Regions from separate parts of the Homo sapiens genome. Here region 2 is linked to region 1. Evidence: fine-mapped expression QTL. Tissue or cell type: subcutaneous fat. Region 1 holds a variant in brackets; the other region holds the start of a gene. All regions are shown on one strand. Distances are from middle to middle. Region 1 overlaps FLACC1 (flagellum associated containing coiled-coil domains 1). Region 2 holds the start of PPIL3 (peptidylprolyl isomerase like 3).

Region 1 (8,332 bases):
TATTAATTTTATTTTGTCCATGAAGATGTTAGCTAATGTAAGGTCACTCACCAATTTCTGGGCAGACTGGTGGTCTCTGTTCATTTGTTCAATTATTGCTGTCAGCTCTGAGATTTGCTCTTCTAGGTCAGAAATGATGTTGGTCCTGTAGGAGAAGTAATTCTTCTATCATCCACAAAGCTTACCATTCCATGCCATTCAGGCCCCTGAGCATGACTGACTCTGGCATGGTGAGAGCTGGCCTGGTGAGAGCTGGCCATGTTCTGCACCTGCTCTATCATTATGGGGTGGGGGTGGAGGGATAGGGGTGGTCTTACAGAAGGCATTTGGCTATAGGGCAGTTGAGGCTCAGATCTGGCTCTTGTGGGTAAGCTCACTAGACTTGAACAGGATGGTTTGGTGCCCTACCGAATAGAAGGAAAATAAGAATATGTCAGAAATTTATTAGAGTTTGACCTTGATTTGGTAATGATAGTTGAAACAGAGGACGAAGTTCAGAGGATTAGGAAATTAGAAGATGTGCAATAGGATTGATGCTGGCTGTGAACCACAGACAAGGATTGGGCCAGAGATGGGACTAAGAGGGTATTTAAGAGAGTGGCTTTCAGCACAGGTCATGGTTTTCTGTGTTTCTGGGTCTAAGGCTGCCATGGTATCTGTAAATTATTTAGCTCTGTCTGGTTGGGCTAGAGTGACAAGGCAGCAGGTGGTGCCATGTGCAGTGGAGCTGAGAGGAAGTCCTCAATGCAAGATGCTTTGACCTCTTTGGCCAACCACTTTGCATGTCTAACTGAGCACAGAGAGAATGTGGGCTGATAAAACAAGAGAGGAGATACAGGAGGAGACAGTTCAAGGGTAAGAGAAAGAAAAGGCTTGAGAAAGTTGAATAATAGGGAGCCCCTATCTTTTGAACACAATCTTCAATACAAACAACACCCACAACTTTACCAGGGAATACAACAAGCACAGGTTATCATATTTTATTGTGCACAACTGGTGACAACTTCCTTGTGAGGCCAAGAGGTGGCTGTCGGTGCTAGCTTGACTATAGGTGCATGACCCATTCTCTTCCTGCAGAGGGCTGTGGATAAGCAGGGAAAAGAAAGCAGAGGCTGAATGCCCCTGGGTGGGAAGACAAGATAAGCAGGGTGAATGCCCCTGGCCCCTGGGTGGCCCTCTGGGCCAGGTCAGATCAGGGAGACTCCATGGCATGGCCTCATTCTACTTGAGGGGCCTTCAGACTCACCCTCAACCTGAATCCCTTCCCCAGATGTAACCACTGCTAACGGTTTGGTTGAATTCTGCCAATACACTAGCAGATAGGTAGATGATTGTGTGTGTGTGTGTGTGTGTGTGTGTGTGTGTGTATGTGTGTGTGTGTTTTCTATTGTTGGTCTTTTAGACTTGTGTGTTGAAAAAATAATTCTTACAGCAAAATCAGCCTGAGGGAAGAGGCACTTGGAGAGCCATTCAGTAGTGCAGTTAAGAAGTAAGATGCCTGAACATGGGCAGGATATCAGAGAAGAAGATATGAATAAGAGATTAAAGGGTAGAATGAAAAGATGTAGAGATGAATCTGCATCTGTTAATGAAAAAAGAAAGACATGGAGATATACTTGATATGGCATTGGAGGACAGAGAGTGGGTGGAGCCTGAAGACAGACAGGACAGCTGTGCTAATGGGTTAGAGTCAGGCCAGAACCTTCCACACTGCATCTCCCGGGGGCATGAGCTGAGTAGTATTTTTGGACATAATGAAAAAGAGGCTGGGCGCAGTGGCTCACGCCTATAATCCCAGCACTTTGGGAGGCTGAGGCCAGAGGATTACCTGAGGTCAGGAGTTTGAGAACAGCCTGGCTAATATGGCAAAATCCCATCTCTACTAAAGCTATAAATATTAGCCGGGCGTCATGGTGCAAGCCTGTAATCCTAGCTACTCAAGAGGTTGAGGCGTGAGAATAGCTTAAACCTGGGAGGCAGAAGTTGCAGTGAGCTGAGATCGTGCCACTAAACTCCAGCCTGGGTGGCAGAGAGAGACTCTGTCTCAAAAAAAAAAGTGCACTCCAGCCACCCAGAAACCCTCACTTTACTTAATTTGCATGCCTCAAATTCAGACTAATTTATGGCTATTCTATCTATTCCTCACCCCACGAACAATTGCTATCCTTTGGGATCAATCACATAACTCCCAATCTTCATCCTGCCCCTTGGATCTGCTCACGGATGGGATCAGAGCAGAGAGGCAGATGTGGAGAGATGCATCATCAGGAAGCAGGGGCGAGGAGGGAGGTGCCCTTGCGGCCCCTCCAGAGCAGGGACCAGTGGCCTGGGTGTGGGCATAGCGGCTTTGGCTTGTCCCTGAGGCCGGGCTGAGCTGGGTGGGAGTAGCCCCAAGCAGCTGCATGTTGCTGCAACAGCATTACCTGGAAAATCTGCCTTTGTCCGGGATCTCCGATTCCCACCGCTTTTTCCTATCAAACATCTCATCCCCTAAGGTGACAGAAATCTGTTCCCGATTCCGAACAAGTTGATAGCCAGGTGACACGTTGATCACTTCCTAGGCATCAAGGGAAAGTAAGATAAAATGGCAGACTTGGAGTGCTGAGATTTTTCCAAATCTTCTCTTATTGCCTCACTCACATCTTAAAAACAGGGACCTGGGACTCCACAGCCCAAGCCCTTCTGGGCCCTTCACCCATTATAGCTCATTCTCACATCTCTCCGACTCAAATCTGATGCTTAGCAGGCTCCTGGGTGTCCCTAGGGGCCTCTCAAGCTCTGCGCCAAACCAAGCCACTGATGCCCCTGCCCCCGACTTGTGTTCACCCTCGTGGCCAGAGCCCAGAGGAGGTGGGCATGCGGCAACTGCTCGGGTTTTGGAATCACAGAGGCCTGAGTAAATCTTGGCTCTGCCACCAGACAGTAGCCATCCAGCATCTCTGTGCCTCAGTTTCCTTATCAGAAAGTGGGGTTAATAACTCTTTCTCAAAGGGCTTTTGTGAGGGAAAAACAAAACAACATATGAGAAAATGACTAGGACGGTTGCAAACAAAATGTCATTTCCTCCTCCTTTTCCCATTAGACGCCAAGTCAGAAACCTGGGCAGGGCCTCTGCTGGCCTGGACCAGGGCAAGGCTGGGGCTCTGAGAGCTGCGCAGCACATGCTGCAGCCCCTTGATCCCTGCTGTTGTCACCTCCTTCATGTCTCTGTGAGTCACCCTCCTCTCTCCACACCCCTGCCTGACGGCCCCAGGCCACCATCATCTTTCTCTTGGGCTCTGGCCTCTCTGCCTTCAGTCTTGCTCCCCCCACAGTTCATCCTCCTCTCTACCTAGAGGGCAATTATATTTTTGCTTGTATATTTTTTTCCCTAACCATTAAAGGACTGCATGGCTCTTTTCCCTGGCTCTTTTCCCAGCACCTGAAACAGTGCCTAATAAATAATAGGTGGTCAATAAATATTTTCCAAAAAAATTAATGGAATACAAAGATTCATACAAAGACCTAAAACTAAAAAACAAAA[C/CAAAA]AAAAAAAAGAAAGAAAAGAAACTAGATAAACACAGAAAACAGTAAAATGTACCGATTACATCCCACCAAAGGGTGCTTTTTCTGAAATGTAACTCTTACTTGGTCCTGTGCCTGCGTCAGACCAGTAAAGGCTCCCAGACACCAGAAGGGTCGGGCCCACACTCCCAGGCAGGCGTCAAGAGCCTTCGAGTTTGGTTCTCATCACCTTCTCCAGTGCCCTCCCGCCCCTGCTCCCCTGAGGGGTCCCGGCAGCCTCTCCCCAGCTTTCGTTAGTTCCCTAGGTCAGCAGAGCACTTCCTGCATCTAGGCATGAGCTGTTCACTGGCCTGGACTAGCTGTCATGTCCAGTTTCTCTGAGACACTCTGTTTGTCTTGTGCAAGGCAGGAGAGAGTGGCAATTAAATGCCCACTCTGGAATCTAGCTGAGCTGAGTTCAAGTCGTGGTTCTTCCACTTACCTGCCGTGCATAATGTGCAATATTAACAGCACCTCCTCCCAGGATCTTTGTGAAGATTCGACAAGGTAAGTATAAAAATGTAAAGGGCCCATGCTTGCACATAGTAGGCACTCAATAAATTTTAGTCCCACCGCCCTCTCCTGCCTTTACTCACATAAAATGATTTATTAGTCTCTTCTTGCCTTGCTGAATGGATTTTCATTCTGCAAGAGAAAGACATGCTCAGAAAGCAACCAGACAGCAAAGAGAAGTTCAAAGCTTAGGAGCTGAACCCTGAGGCCGCCACCATCTGACTTCTGCTCTCTGACCTGACCTTCTTAGGGGATCCCTAGGATAGTTGGGGAACTCACTGAAGCCGGGCTCCTGAGGGCCCCAAAGTAGGGGTGCTCATGAAAAGGTCCTGCCCAAGGAGGCAAAAGACTTGTCTTATGATGTTGGGGCAACTTCTGTTTTGGAGGAGCATAAACCAGCTAGAGGGACCCCTACATATTCTCCCTGAGTCAAGGCTCTGTGAGTCAGGTGACACCCCCCACCACCCCCTTACACACAAACGGGCACACACACACTCAGTTCAGGGAACTGTGTGGAACTCTCTTTATTGGAGAATGAAACATTCTATATAAACAAATGTTCCAGAAAATGAAATGTATCCCATTAAGATACAAATGTTGAAGTTAAACTTGTTTTTCATTCAAATCTTTATATATGCTATATATAAAATGAATACCACATATGTGTATATGTTCACAGTGGCCTTTCCCTCCAGCTCCAAAGCCAGCAGCAATTGCATCACTCCAACCTCTGCTTCTGTTGTCACAGCTCCTTCTCTGACTCTGACACTGTGACCTCCTCTTTCACATACAAAGAAGGACCTTTGTGATTACATGGGATCTGGGATAATCCAGGATAATCTCTCCAACTGAAGGTCAGCTGATTAGCAACCTTAATTCCATCTGCAGCCTTAATTCCTCTTTGGCAAGTAACATATTCACAGTCTCTGGGTATTAGGGTGTAGACGTCCTTGGGAGGGGGTCACTGTCCTGCCCACCACACCCATCACCTTGTTACCTTCTTTGAGCTCATCTCCCACCACTCCCTGCTCACTCGCTCCGCTCATGCCACACTGGCTTCTGCCTTCCTGGAAGAGGTCAGACATGCCAAGCAAGTTCCCACCCCAGGGCCTTTGGACTTGCTGGTCCCTCTGCCAAGAGTGCTTGCCCCAGGCATCATTGAGGCTCCTTTTGCCCCCTTTACACAGGCACTTGCCCTGACCTCTCTACGTAAAGTATCCCCACCGTCACAGCCCCTACCTGCTTTGCCTGCATCTTTTTTCTATGTAGCACTTGCCAACCTCGGATGTAATAACTAGTTTATGGTCCTCTTCCCCTTCCTTCCCCACTAGAATATAAGTGCCAGGAGAGTGGAGACTTTATTGTGTTTCTGGCTCTTTTCCCAGCACCTGAAACAGTGCCTAATAAATAATAGGTGGTCAATAAATATTTTCCAAAAAAATTAATGGAATACAAAGATTCATACAAAGACCTAAAACTAAGGTACATTTCTAAGCTTGTAAAATGCGAGTAAAAATTTTAATTTGTGATTAAAACCAAGATGCAACCCATAGAAAATCTTAGACACAGGACAGTAATCAGCTAAAGAGTGAGTCACCACCCTAAATGCACGGGAGGGTCGCCAAGGCTCTGTGACAATAGCACACATCAAGCTTTGGGCTCCAGGGCAGAAGACAGTTACTGGGGGCACCCCTGTGGAGAGCAGTGGATACAGTGACTTTGAATCAAACAATGCAATGACTTTGGAAGCTGTGGATGCAGAGGACCCCAAAATCTACATGTAGGATCTGAGGTTTGCAAGAAATCAAGGTCGATTCTGGCAATTCTCTAACATCCCTGGCATCAATTAGTTCAAGTCAGGCCAGGTGAGAGGGAGATTATTTTATTCACATGCCTGAAACCATTTCTGCCTCATGGACATAAAAATACTTAGGGCCAGGCACAGTGGCTCACGACTGTAATCCCAGCACTTTGAAGGCTGAGGAGGGCTGGTCACTTAAGGTCAGGAGTTCCAGACCAGCCTGGCCAACATGGTGAAACCCCGTCGTTACTACAAATACAAAAATTACGTGGGCATGGTAATGGGTGCCTGTAATCCCAGCTACTCAGGAGGCTAAGGCAGGAGAATCGTTTGAACCAGGGAGGTGGAGGTTGGAATGAGCCAAGATGGCACCACTGCGCTCCAGCCTGGGTGACAGAGCAAGACTCCATCTCAAACAAACAAACTGCTTGGTGCAGTGGCTCACACCTGTAATCCCAACACTTTGGGAGGCTCAGGCGGGTGGATTGCCTGAGTTCAGGAGTTCAAGACCACCCTGGGCAATGTGGTGAAACCCCGTCTCTACTAAAATACAAAAAAGTAGCCAGGCATGGTGGCGCGCACACCTGTATTCCCAGCTACTCGAGAGGCTGAGGCAGGAGAATCGCTTGAGACTGGGAGGCAGAGGTTGCAGTGAGCCAAGGTTACACCACTGCACTCTAGCCTGGGCAACAGAGTGAGACTCCATCTCAAAAACAAAACAAAACAAAACAATACTTACTTTGGGGAAACAACAGGTTTTGTTGGTTGGAGGTAATTGTGATTTTTTGGAGCTGGTACAAGAGGAGTTAGCCTGAAAGTGAAAAACAAATAACTAAAACAAGAACATTGGAAATTCGGAAACCCTTTTTAACACTCCCAGATTAAGTACATCCCTATAGTGACCCAAAATTGGAATGCATGATCTGATAGCTGGAATCTTTAAAATCTGAGGCCTTTAAAACTCAGGCCCAAGGCCCTGGCACTTGTTCACTGTCCCAGGAAGAGTTTGTCCCCCGATTCCCAAAGCTCTTTATCCCACATGAAGGCGGCAGCTGCCATCAGGGCCCTTTGGTTGGAAGCTGCACTTTGCCGTTGCACCAACACTGAGACTTCCTCATTTAAAATGGCACAAACCCCAGGCAGGGCTGGCAAGATGAGGGTGCAGCCAACCAGCTGGCAGGGAAGCTGGGGAAAGCGAGGCTTTCTGGCCCACCTGGGATTTTCCTGCCACACTTGCTGTTTTAGAAATCTTGTGAGAGAAATGAGGCTACAAATGGATCCCAAGGTCCCTGTGCCTACCCCATCCCAGATAATTCTTACTTGGAACTCCCTGTGGAGTTCTTGCGTGGTAGTTGAGGGGTCTTGATTAGCTTCCGTGGTCCCAAGTTCCAGGGGTCCCAGCAGGTGCAGTAGATGAGAGGGTTGGGGTACATGGCCAAAGGTCAGGGGGAGTCTTGGCTGCTAGATCAGGAGGCTCTTGCTGAAATTGAAAAACAACAGCAGAAGGTTAAACCATTTAGAATCAAAGCAAAAATACAGAAGAATTGGGAAGAACCCAGGGAGGACCCAAAGAACAATGGTAGATTCCAGAAGCTGTTGATCTGGTGCAGGGTCTTGACTATAGGTTAACAGCTCATCCCTTTCTACTCAGTAGACTTGACTTGAAAGCAATTTAAACTTTGCCATAACTGGCTGGGCATGGTGGCTCACGCCTGTAATCCCAGCACTTTGGGAGGCCGAGGTGGATGGATCACTTGAGGTCAGGAGTTTGAGACCAGCCTGGCCAACATGGTGAAACCCCGTCTCTACTGAAAATACAAAAATTAGCTGGGCATGGTGGCACACACCTATAGTCCCAGCTACTCAGGAGGCTGAGGTGGGAGGATTGCTTGAACCTGGGAGGCAGAGGTTGCAGTGAGCTGAGATTGTGCCACTGCACTCCAGCCTGGGTGAAGAGTGAGACTTCGTCTCAAAAAATAAAATAAGATACAAATAAAAATAAAACAAAATAATTAAAATAAAATAAAATTTGCCATAGCCGAGTCCTTGCTGTGAGCCAGGTAAAACTGCTCAATTATTGTTATGCTGATACTATAGATGAAGCTACTGAGACTCAGAGAAGTCACGGCGGCAGCAAGTTGCAGAGCTGGAAACAAACACAAATCTCTTTGACTCCCAAGCTCCTTCCTTTCCAGCAGGCCACACCAGTTCTCACTGAAGGGAAGAGAAATTCCCACAGCAAGTTCTGCACAGAACTTCCTGGAAAATTAGTTCTGCTGCTTGAGCTACAGTGCAAATGAATCTCCTCGTTTCTCATTCCTGGTCACCTTCTTGAATTACAGAGTGGAAACTCCTTCCCTGGCTCCCAAAAAACAAAACCCCTATTATGAGAATCTTGATGAAAGAAAACTATCAGATAAACATGGTGGCTTGACCACACTGGCTTATCTTCTTTCTTTTCCAGAATCCAACTAAAATT
Region 2 (8,332 bases), 460 kb before region 1:
TATCTACGTTCTCTTTGATCCACCTTTGACATTGGACAAATAAGTGGAAATCAGGCCAGAAGTTAGGATGGCTAGTTTTCCCTAACAATGGTTTTACAGAAAGTTTTGTTGTTGTTATTTAGGTTAGATTATTCAATTCCAAAGTGCTTATCTTGTTGTATTAACTGATGTTGAATATGTAAATAATAGTACTTACCTCACATGTTTTGGGTGTCCTCTCACAGAAGACTTCAATTTTAATATCACCTACATCTGTATGCAGTGTCACAGACTAAAAAGGAGAGAAAATGTGAGAACAAATGAAATTTATTTAGGTGACTTTATGCATTGTTTATTTCCCTGTGTGGATATTCAAGATGATAATCTGAATAAAAACAGACAGAAATACTGCTTCAGAGATGACCCATCCACAAAGCAGCTCTTAGAGGTTAAGTTGTACTTTTTTCTCAAAATTGATCCCAACAGTAGAGAAAAAACTCCAGAATATAAATGTTAGGGTTAAGTAGTATCCATGACAAAAATTTGGAAGTAAATATTTTGATGGAAAGAATTATTTTAACTTTGAATTTTTTATCAAGAAAAATAAAAACAATTGTTATGTATTATTGATGTACATGGCAATTCACCAACATCCTTATTTATAGAAAAATGATGAGAAAATGATTTTTCAAAACATAATTTCCACCATTTTCCTTAGGTAATTTAATTCTGAGAAATAGGGTTAAAAAATAATTCCTTTCTCGACTAACAAAAATATAACAAGTGTCAGTGTTTCTAAATCTTAAATGTGCAGAGATAACCACAGTGCTTTCTTGCTTGCTTTTTGTTTTTGTTGTACCTGTTTTTCTGTAACCTGTATACCCCTTGATATGATACTGTATTCCAGAGAGGGAGAAAACAATTTGGAGGGTTCCTTTTTCATTTCTCCTTTTTTTTTTTTTTGAGGTGGAGTCTTGCTCTGTCGCCCACACTGGAGTGCAGTGGCGTGATCTCGGCTCACTACAATCTCCACCTCCTGCGTTCAAGCAATTCTCCTGCCTCAGCCTCCCAAGTAGCTGGGATTACTGGGATATGCCACAACACCCAGATAATTTTTGTATTTTTAGTAGAGACAGGGTTTCACCATGTTGGCCAGGCTGGTCTCGAACTCCTGACCTCAAGTGATTGGCCCACCTCTGCCTCCCAAAGTGCCGAGATTACAGGCGTGAGCCACCGCGCCTGGCCTAGCAGTTAGAGAGTATGAGCAGGTTAAAGATGTGTGTGGGAGAAGCAGGGCACTATTCTCATTGCCTTTTTCTACTTCAGGTTCTAGTTGCCCACTTTATTTAATTGTTTTTTTAAAAGTAGAGACGGGGGCCTCACTGTGTTGCCCAAGCTGGTGTTGAACTCCTGGGATCAAGCAGTCCTCTCACCTCCGCCTCCCAAAGTGCTGGGATCACAGGTGTCAGCCACTGTGCCCAGCCTAGTTGCCCACTTTAGATCTAGAGCAAAATAATCCAATTAAAATTGTCAGACCTGTCTATTCTCTTCTGCTCCTTCAACTCTCCCTTTCCATTTCTATCTATCTTGTAATCAATCTTTCTCCATAAAAGGTAAATTCTGGCTGGGCGAGTTGGCTCACGCCTGTAATTCCAACACTTTGGGAGGTCAAGGCAGGCAGATCACCTGAGGTCAGGAGTTCGAGACCAGTCTGCCCAAAATGGCGAAACCCCATCTCTACTAAAAATACAAAAAATTAGCTGGGCGTGGTGGCAGGCGCGTGTAATCTCAGCTACCGGGGAGGCTAAGGCAGGAGAATCGCTTGAACCCAGGGGCAGAGGCTGCAGTGAGCCGAGATTACACCACTGCACTCCAGCCTGGGAGACAAGAGTGAAACTCAAAAAAAAAAAAAAAAAAAAAGGTAAATTCTGTGCATTTTAAGTGACAACATTAAAGAATTTTAAAGCAATTTTGTGTATTTTTTAAAAGAATTATTCCATATTAAGTGCTTCTATATTATACAATTTCTCCATCTTGCCACTGCAATTTCCATGAACTTTTATTGCCCTTGACTGAATTTCTAAAAATTACTTATAATGAAAGACATTAGATAAAAATTGCTCAAAACTTACCATTTTTCCTCTTAGTGGTTTCAGGAAGGACTACGTGATTTCTCAGTCTTACAGCGAGCTCAAAAATAAGTCTCTAGTCCCAAAAGAAAAAAAGAATTAGGCTCATTTTCCTGTCTTAACTCACACACGCTCATCTTTACTGAACATTTTAAATAAAAACCTCGCCGGGCGTGGTGGCTCACGCCTATAATCCTAACACTTTGGGAGGCCGAGGCGGGTGGATCACTTGAGGTCAGGAGTTCGAGACCAGCCTGGCCAACATGGCGAAACCCCGTCTCTACTAAAAACACAAAAATTAGCCGGGTGTGGTGGCAGGCGCCTGTAGTCCTAGCTACTCAGCAGGCTGCGGCAGGAGAATCACTTGAACCCAGGAGGCGGAGGCTGCAGTGAGCTGAGATCGCGCCACTGCACTCCAGCCTGGGTGACAGCGCGAGACTCCGTCAAAAAAAAAAAAAAAAAAAATCCTCTAATGGCATCCCCTAGGTAATAAAAACCCGGCTATAGAAGATATCCTACCCGATTCAAGCCTCCCAATCTCCTACTTGCCCGGCTTGCTCTTCTTCAAGAGCCTCCTTGCAAGTCCCCCAATAACCCAGATACCTTCCCTTAGGGTCCAGGCATTGGGTGTCCCTTTTGCCTGGAATTCTTATACTCAGACATCTCTACGGCTAATTTCCTCACCTCCAAATTTCTGCTTAAATGTCAAGTTTAACTGACCTGACAATCCTACACAGAACTGCTTTAGCCCTTCAGCCCTAGGACATTCCTATTTCCTTCTCCCACAGCACTTATCACTAATATACTATGAAATTCGCTTTTTTTTTTTTTCACCACAGCACTTATACTAATATACTATGAACTTTTTTTTTTCCACCACAGCACTTATCACTAATATACTATGAACTTCTCTTTTTTTTTCATTTTGAGACGGAGTCTCGCTATGTCGCCAGGCTGGAGTGCAGTGCGGCAGGATCTCGGCTCACTGCAACCTCCGCCTCCGCCTCCCGGGTTCAAGTGATTGTCGTGTCTCAGCCTCCCGAGTAGGTGGGACTACAGGCGCGCGCTACCATGCACGACTAATTTTTGTATTTTTAGTAGAGACGGGGTTTCGCCGTGTTGGCCAGGCTGGTCTCGAACTCCTGACTTCAGGTGATCCGCCCGCCTCGGCCTCCCGAAGTGCTGGGAGGCCGCCGTGCAGGGTCCTTCTTTTACTCTGACGTTGCAACAACAGCCTCGCCGCCCACTGTTCACTCGCAGTATCCCAAGAACTAAACCAGTAGCAACACAGAACTCAGCAAGCATTCGAATAAGTGAATGAAAGAATTAATGACGTTACTCCATACTTGGGCTTCACCACTTCGTCTAGCACAGCCGTTGTTAAAACAGGAAAAATGCAATCGCAGATGCCAGCAGAGGTCTGTTGGTTCAAAATTATAGTTTCTTTGGGCCAGCGGAAGTTGGGCGCGGGACCCAAGAGAGAGAACGCCCCTTACCGCCTCACCTCCTTCCTCCCCTCATCTTCCTATCTCAAACCAAAACGACAATGCAATTTATCCCCAACCGGAAATTTGACAGTGAAAGGGAGCTCTACTAATAATTGCACTGGGACAAGAAGTGTAAGGCGAAACTACCTGGGCAACCTCAAGCAATGCTTTACACTCGGCTGCCAAACGGAAAGGACCACTTCCGCCCAGCTCTCCCGCTACGGGGAGCCAAGTGCCACAGCATCCGGAGCGCCGACGCGGGACCGGAAGTGACGCAGAGAAGTTTCCGGGACTGGTGAGTAGTGGGCGATTTAAAAACCCGCGAGTGTAGTTGTGACCTTCGCGGTAGGTGCCGGTTGGGGCCGGCTGTGATTGTTATCTTGGTGCTGCAGAGGACAGCAGAAGAGGAGATTGGGTCAGAAAACTGCCCTGCCGCACCAGAGCACAGCGCACTAGTGGGACAGGGGTCCTGACTCAGACTTAACTGGCTGTGTCTCGTGGTTTTTCACTGTCCTGGAAAAGGCCTGAAGTGGCACTGAAATGAGGCATAGATGAGGTAACGTCGAGGGAGCGGTTTGCAGGTTGCAAAGGGGCCCTACTGATGCTGCTTAATAGTAAACAGTGCTTACTCTAGGACGGGAGTTGTTTCCAGCTTTACGTGTAAATCTCGCGATATTGTGGCCTGGGCACTATTTCCATTAAGGAGGAAACTGCACAGGATAAGTCATTTACCTGCTGTTGCACAGCTCTGGCTCTAGGATTCAGGCTGGCTTCAGAGTCGGTGCTCTTAACCGCCATACTATGTTGCCTTCTGTTGTCGTTGTTGACTGTGGCCATGTAGCTTCGCAGTTTCCTCATCTGTAACAGTAAATAACTCAAAACCTGCATGATGGCCCACTAGGGTTTCACTTTCGAGCTTGCCAGATGTAGAAAATGCTGGAGAATGGAGTACTATGAGGACCATTAGAAGATCTTTCAAGGCCGGACGCAGTGGCTCACCCCTGTAATCCCGGTACTCTTGGAGGCCGAGGCAGGTGGATCACTTGAGCGCAGGAGTTTGAGACCAGCCTGGGCAACATGGCGAATCCCCATCTCTACTAAAAATACAAAAATTAGCCAGGTGTGGTGTTTAGCGCCTGTAGTCCCAGCTGCTCAGGAGGCTGAGGTGGGAGGATCTGCTTGAGCTCAGGAAGTCGAGGCTGCAGTGAGCTGAGATCACGCCACTGCACTCCAGCCTAGGCGCCTAGTGAAACCCTGTGTCAAAAAGAAAAAAACAAAAACAAACTTCCAAGACCTCGAGTGGTTTTTGGAGACCCTGTATCACTTCAAATAATGTGTTAAACAAGCATCTTCATCTCATTAAATAGAAATGTTGAAAAATTGCTTTTGGAATAATTGACTTATGGATATTTCATCAAATTTACAGTTGGCTATGCTTTCTTATTGTGCATACTATGAAATGTTTTTCTTCAAAAAGTGTTTATAAGTGGTAAGTTTAAGAATGGGGTTGACAGCATTATCTTTTGTGGTTATTTGATTAAACATTTACTAATTGTGCATATTTTGGAGCCAGCAGTTTTTTTCTACCTTTCCATTGCCCTCCCACCTTCCCTCTGTTGCCAACCTTTTCAGTTCCTTGTTGGATGTAGATACTTAGAAGGCTTACAGGCTGTCTGGGAAAAGTACCCTATACCTTATCCCCTCCCACCTCTTGAGCCTGGCCTTTGTGTAGCAAATGTTGCTTAAGGGGCAGTGGCTTCTCCCTTCTTCTGCCTTGACCCTGCCCATTTATAGAGTGACCTGCCTATGTATTCCTTGATTTTTGATTCTGATAAAGCACTTGACATTTTAAACATTCTTTTTTTTTTTTTTTTTCTTTTTGAGACGGAGTGTTGCTCTCTCGCCAGGCTGGAGTGCTGTGGCATGATCTTGGCTCACTGCAACCTCCGCCTCCCAGGTTCAAGTGATTCTCCTGCGTCAGCCTCCCGAGTAGCTGGGACTACAGGTGCACACCACCATGCCCAGCTAATTTTTGTATTTTTAGTAGAGACGGTTTCACCACGTTGGCCAGGATAGTCTTTATCTCTTGACTTTGTGATCCTCCCGCCTCGGCCTCCCAAAGTGCTGGGATTACAGGCGCCCCGCCACATTATTCTGTTTTTTGGTAAAGCACATTGTAATGCCAGTATATACCACCCCAACTCCAAATTCTGTTGCAATCAGGGGAGGCGGGCAGTGTCATTCTATGCAGTAAGCATTTAGTGCTGGCTTATATTAGTGATACTGAGATTTATTGAAGTTAGTTCCTATTACATAGTAGCTTTAGCATAATGGGCACACACAGAATTATGAGAATACTGAGGGGTGGGGAGCCTTGGGAAGGATGCTGAAAAGGGAGGTCAAGAAAAGTTTTATTTAAGAAGTTGGAGGGGGCTTGGGAAAAGGAAAGGTAATATTTAGAGAAATGGATTAGGGAGGAGGTTGGTTGAAGCAAGGGTAGGGAGAATAAGAACAAGGGTGTGCAAGGCAGGAGATGGGATGGACGTTTGTGTATTATGTACCAGGCTTTGCTAGGTTACATAATTCATTAGCTCCTCTGGATGGCCTGTGAAGTGGGTTATAGTATCTCTGTTTCGTAGGTGAGAAAACAAGATTGGAGAGGTTAAATGGCTTACCTAAGTTACAGTGTGCTGGTAAGTGGCAGAGCCACTATTTGAACCCAGATCTCTATGACGACAGCTCTTTTGCCCATATGTTTTGATGCCTCAAAGATCCAGGCCTAAAGTATACCTGTGTACCATTTTCTTTGTTTTGACATCAGAAACTTGAACTTTACCTGATTTCTGTATGTTGTCATCTTGCGTACGCCCAGTCCCCACGACAGTCCGGTTTGTAGATTCCCTGATCTGCAATTCTTCCCGTTCCTTCATGGATTTGAAGGCTCTCCTTTCTTCCTTGAATGACTTTGCATCCCTCTCGTTTGCTGAGAGTTGGGACAATGTTGGATTACTGGTGGAACCAAGCCCACCACATACTGTAAATACACTCTTCCTGACCAATGACCTGACTGAGGAAGTGATGGAGGAGGTGCTGCAAAAGAAGGCAGACCTCATTCTCTCCTACCATCCGCCTATCTTCCGACCCATGAAGCGCATAACCTGGAACACATGGAAGGAGCGCCTGGTGATCCGGGCTCTGGAGAACAGAGTCGGTATCTACTCTCCTCATACAGCCTATGATGCTGCGCCCCAGGGCGTCAACAACTGGTTGGCTAAAGGGCTTGGTGAGAAGCCTCTTTCATATTTGATATTTTCCCTGCAAATACTTTGAAACTTTAGGATGTCTTTCCAGTAAAGTTTTAACTGCTTTAGGGTTGGGGAGGGCATGATTCCATTTTTATATAATAATTTTAAAATAATGTTGCTGAAATTTGGCAGTTAAATTGCATTTGAAAAAGGAAACATTTTTTATTCTTATGGAGTAAGGAGAGCAGAAGTCTTCCTTACTGGACTGAGCTTCATGATTCCTCACTTTTGTGGCACAATGCCTGTCACCCAGGCACTTGGAAAATGCTTGTTGAATTGAAAGCTCAGGCCTCTCCAGAATACACTTGATTGATAAGTCAAGTAAATAGACATCAGGGTTTTAATGAATGTTTTTAGTGAATGTTTACTTATGCCTAGCACAATGAGGGAATGATGGATGGATTTTAGCTTTATTTTAGTAAGTCTTTAGTTTACTCATTTTGGGCTAAAGCTTTTATGATGATATCTGGATTAATGTGGTCAAATAAAGTATGAGCATTTGCAACCTGAATGATGGTTTACATGGCTAGATTTACCAAGCAGTAGACCATTCTGTGTATTATCTGAAAATGTATGAATCAGTCTTTCTTGTCCAAGTTTTTCAGAGATTTAAGAATCTTTTGGAAAATAATTCTGAAAATAATTTGATTTTGTATGTCCATGCCAAAGCCCTAGATTATGGGGACTGGTGATGTATATCTAAGGGATGTGTGTATGTTATGTAAGCATGAGAATGAATCTTTTTAAAAAGTCATTTCTTAGAAATTTTGCCTATAATAGTTTACTTTTAAATCTTAATCTCTCACCCCCCAAAACTCCCATTTTCCCACAATATTTTCTCTAGGAGCTTGTACCTCCAGGCCCATACATCCTTCCAAAGCTCCCAACTACCCTACAGAGGGAAACCACCGAGTAGAATTCAACGTTAACTACACCCAAGACCTGGACAAAGTCATGTCTGCAGTGAAAGGAATTGACGGTGTTTCTGTCACTTCTTTTTCTGCTAGGTACAATTTATTTTTCTCTTTTTTTTGTGTGTATTTATTGGTAAGCATCTTCCTTACAAAGTCTATAACCCTGGTATTTAGGCTTGAAACAAATAGTTTTCTCTGGAGTTGATTTACAAAGTAGCATACTCCTCATTTGTTTGTGGGTCCTGGAGAACTATGGAATTTTTTCAAAACAATAAAAACGGTAAGTAACACTAAGTATTTTCTATGTCAGGGGACTATACTATGCATTTTACCTACAGTATTTCTAATCCTGGTAATGTTCAAAGATAGTTGTTTTTACTTTAGAGAATACAGATAGATCCTAGTGATGTGGTGATAAGGCTTTTATTGGTTCCCAGCAAATCAGTGATTCCCAAGTGCTTTTTTATATTTATCTTTACATTTTAAATATATATTTTCATAAATCAGTCTTTTTATTT

The links. PIP is the estimated chance that this variant, and not a neighbour inherited with it, causes the effect.
Region 2: PPIL3 starts here. The variant in region 1 is the best candidate, but not a certain one, in a credible set for the expression of PPIL3 in subcutaneous fat (TwinsUK, PIP 0.65).

The regions. Positions count from the first base shown.
Region 1 is chr2:201,344,119-201,352,450 of GRCh38, forward strand. FLACC1 (flagellum associated containing coiled-coil domains 1) reads right to left here. Exons shown (of 15, transcript NM_001127391.3): 2 at 7,174-7,333; 3 at 6,593-6,664; 4 at 4,136-4,184; 5 at 2,424-2,557; 6 at 52-145. The coding sequence starts at 7,286. Among named protein-coding and RNA genes, the nearest start is that of FLACC1, 9.1 kb to the right of the region's middle. The variant C/CAAAA (reference allele first, on the strand shown) is at 3,524.
Region 2 is chr2:200,885,502-200,893,833 of GRCh38, forward strand. It overlaps PPIL3 (peptidylprolyl isomerase like 3), which reads right to left and starts at 3,576. Exons shown (of 7, transcript NM_130906.3): 1 at 3,455-3,576; 2 at 2,112-2,184; 3 at 197-271. The coding sequence starts at 2,114. NIF3L1 (NGG1 interacting factor 3 like 1) reads left to right here and starts at 3,870. Exons shown (of 7, transcript NM_001369441.2): 1 at 3,870-4,151; 2 at 6,417-6,878; 3 at 7,745-7,907. The coding sequence starts at 6,443. RefSeq lists enhancers at 2,656-3,400, 3,094-3,143, 3,212-4,411, 3,264-3,513, 3,401-4,145 and 1 more.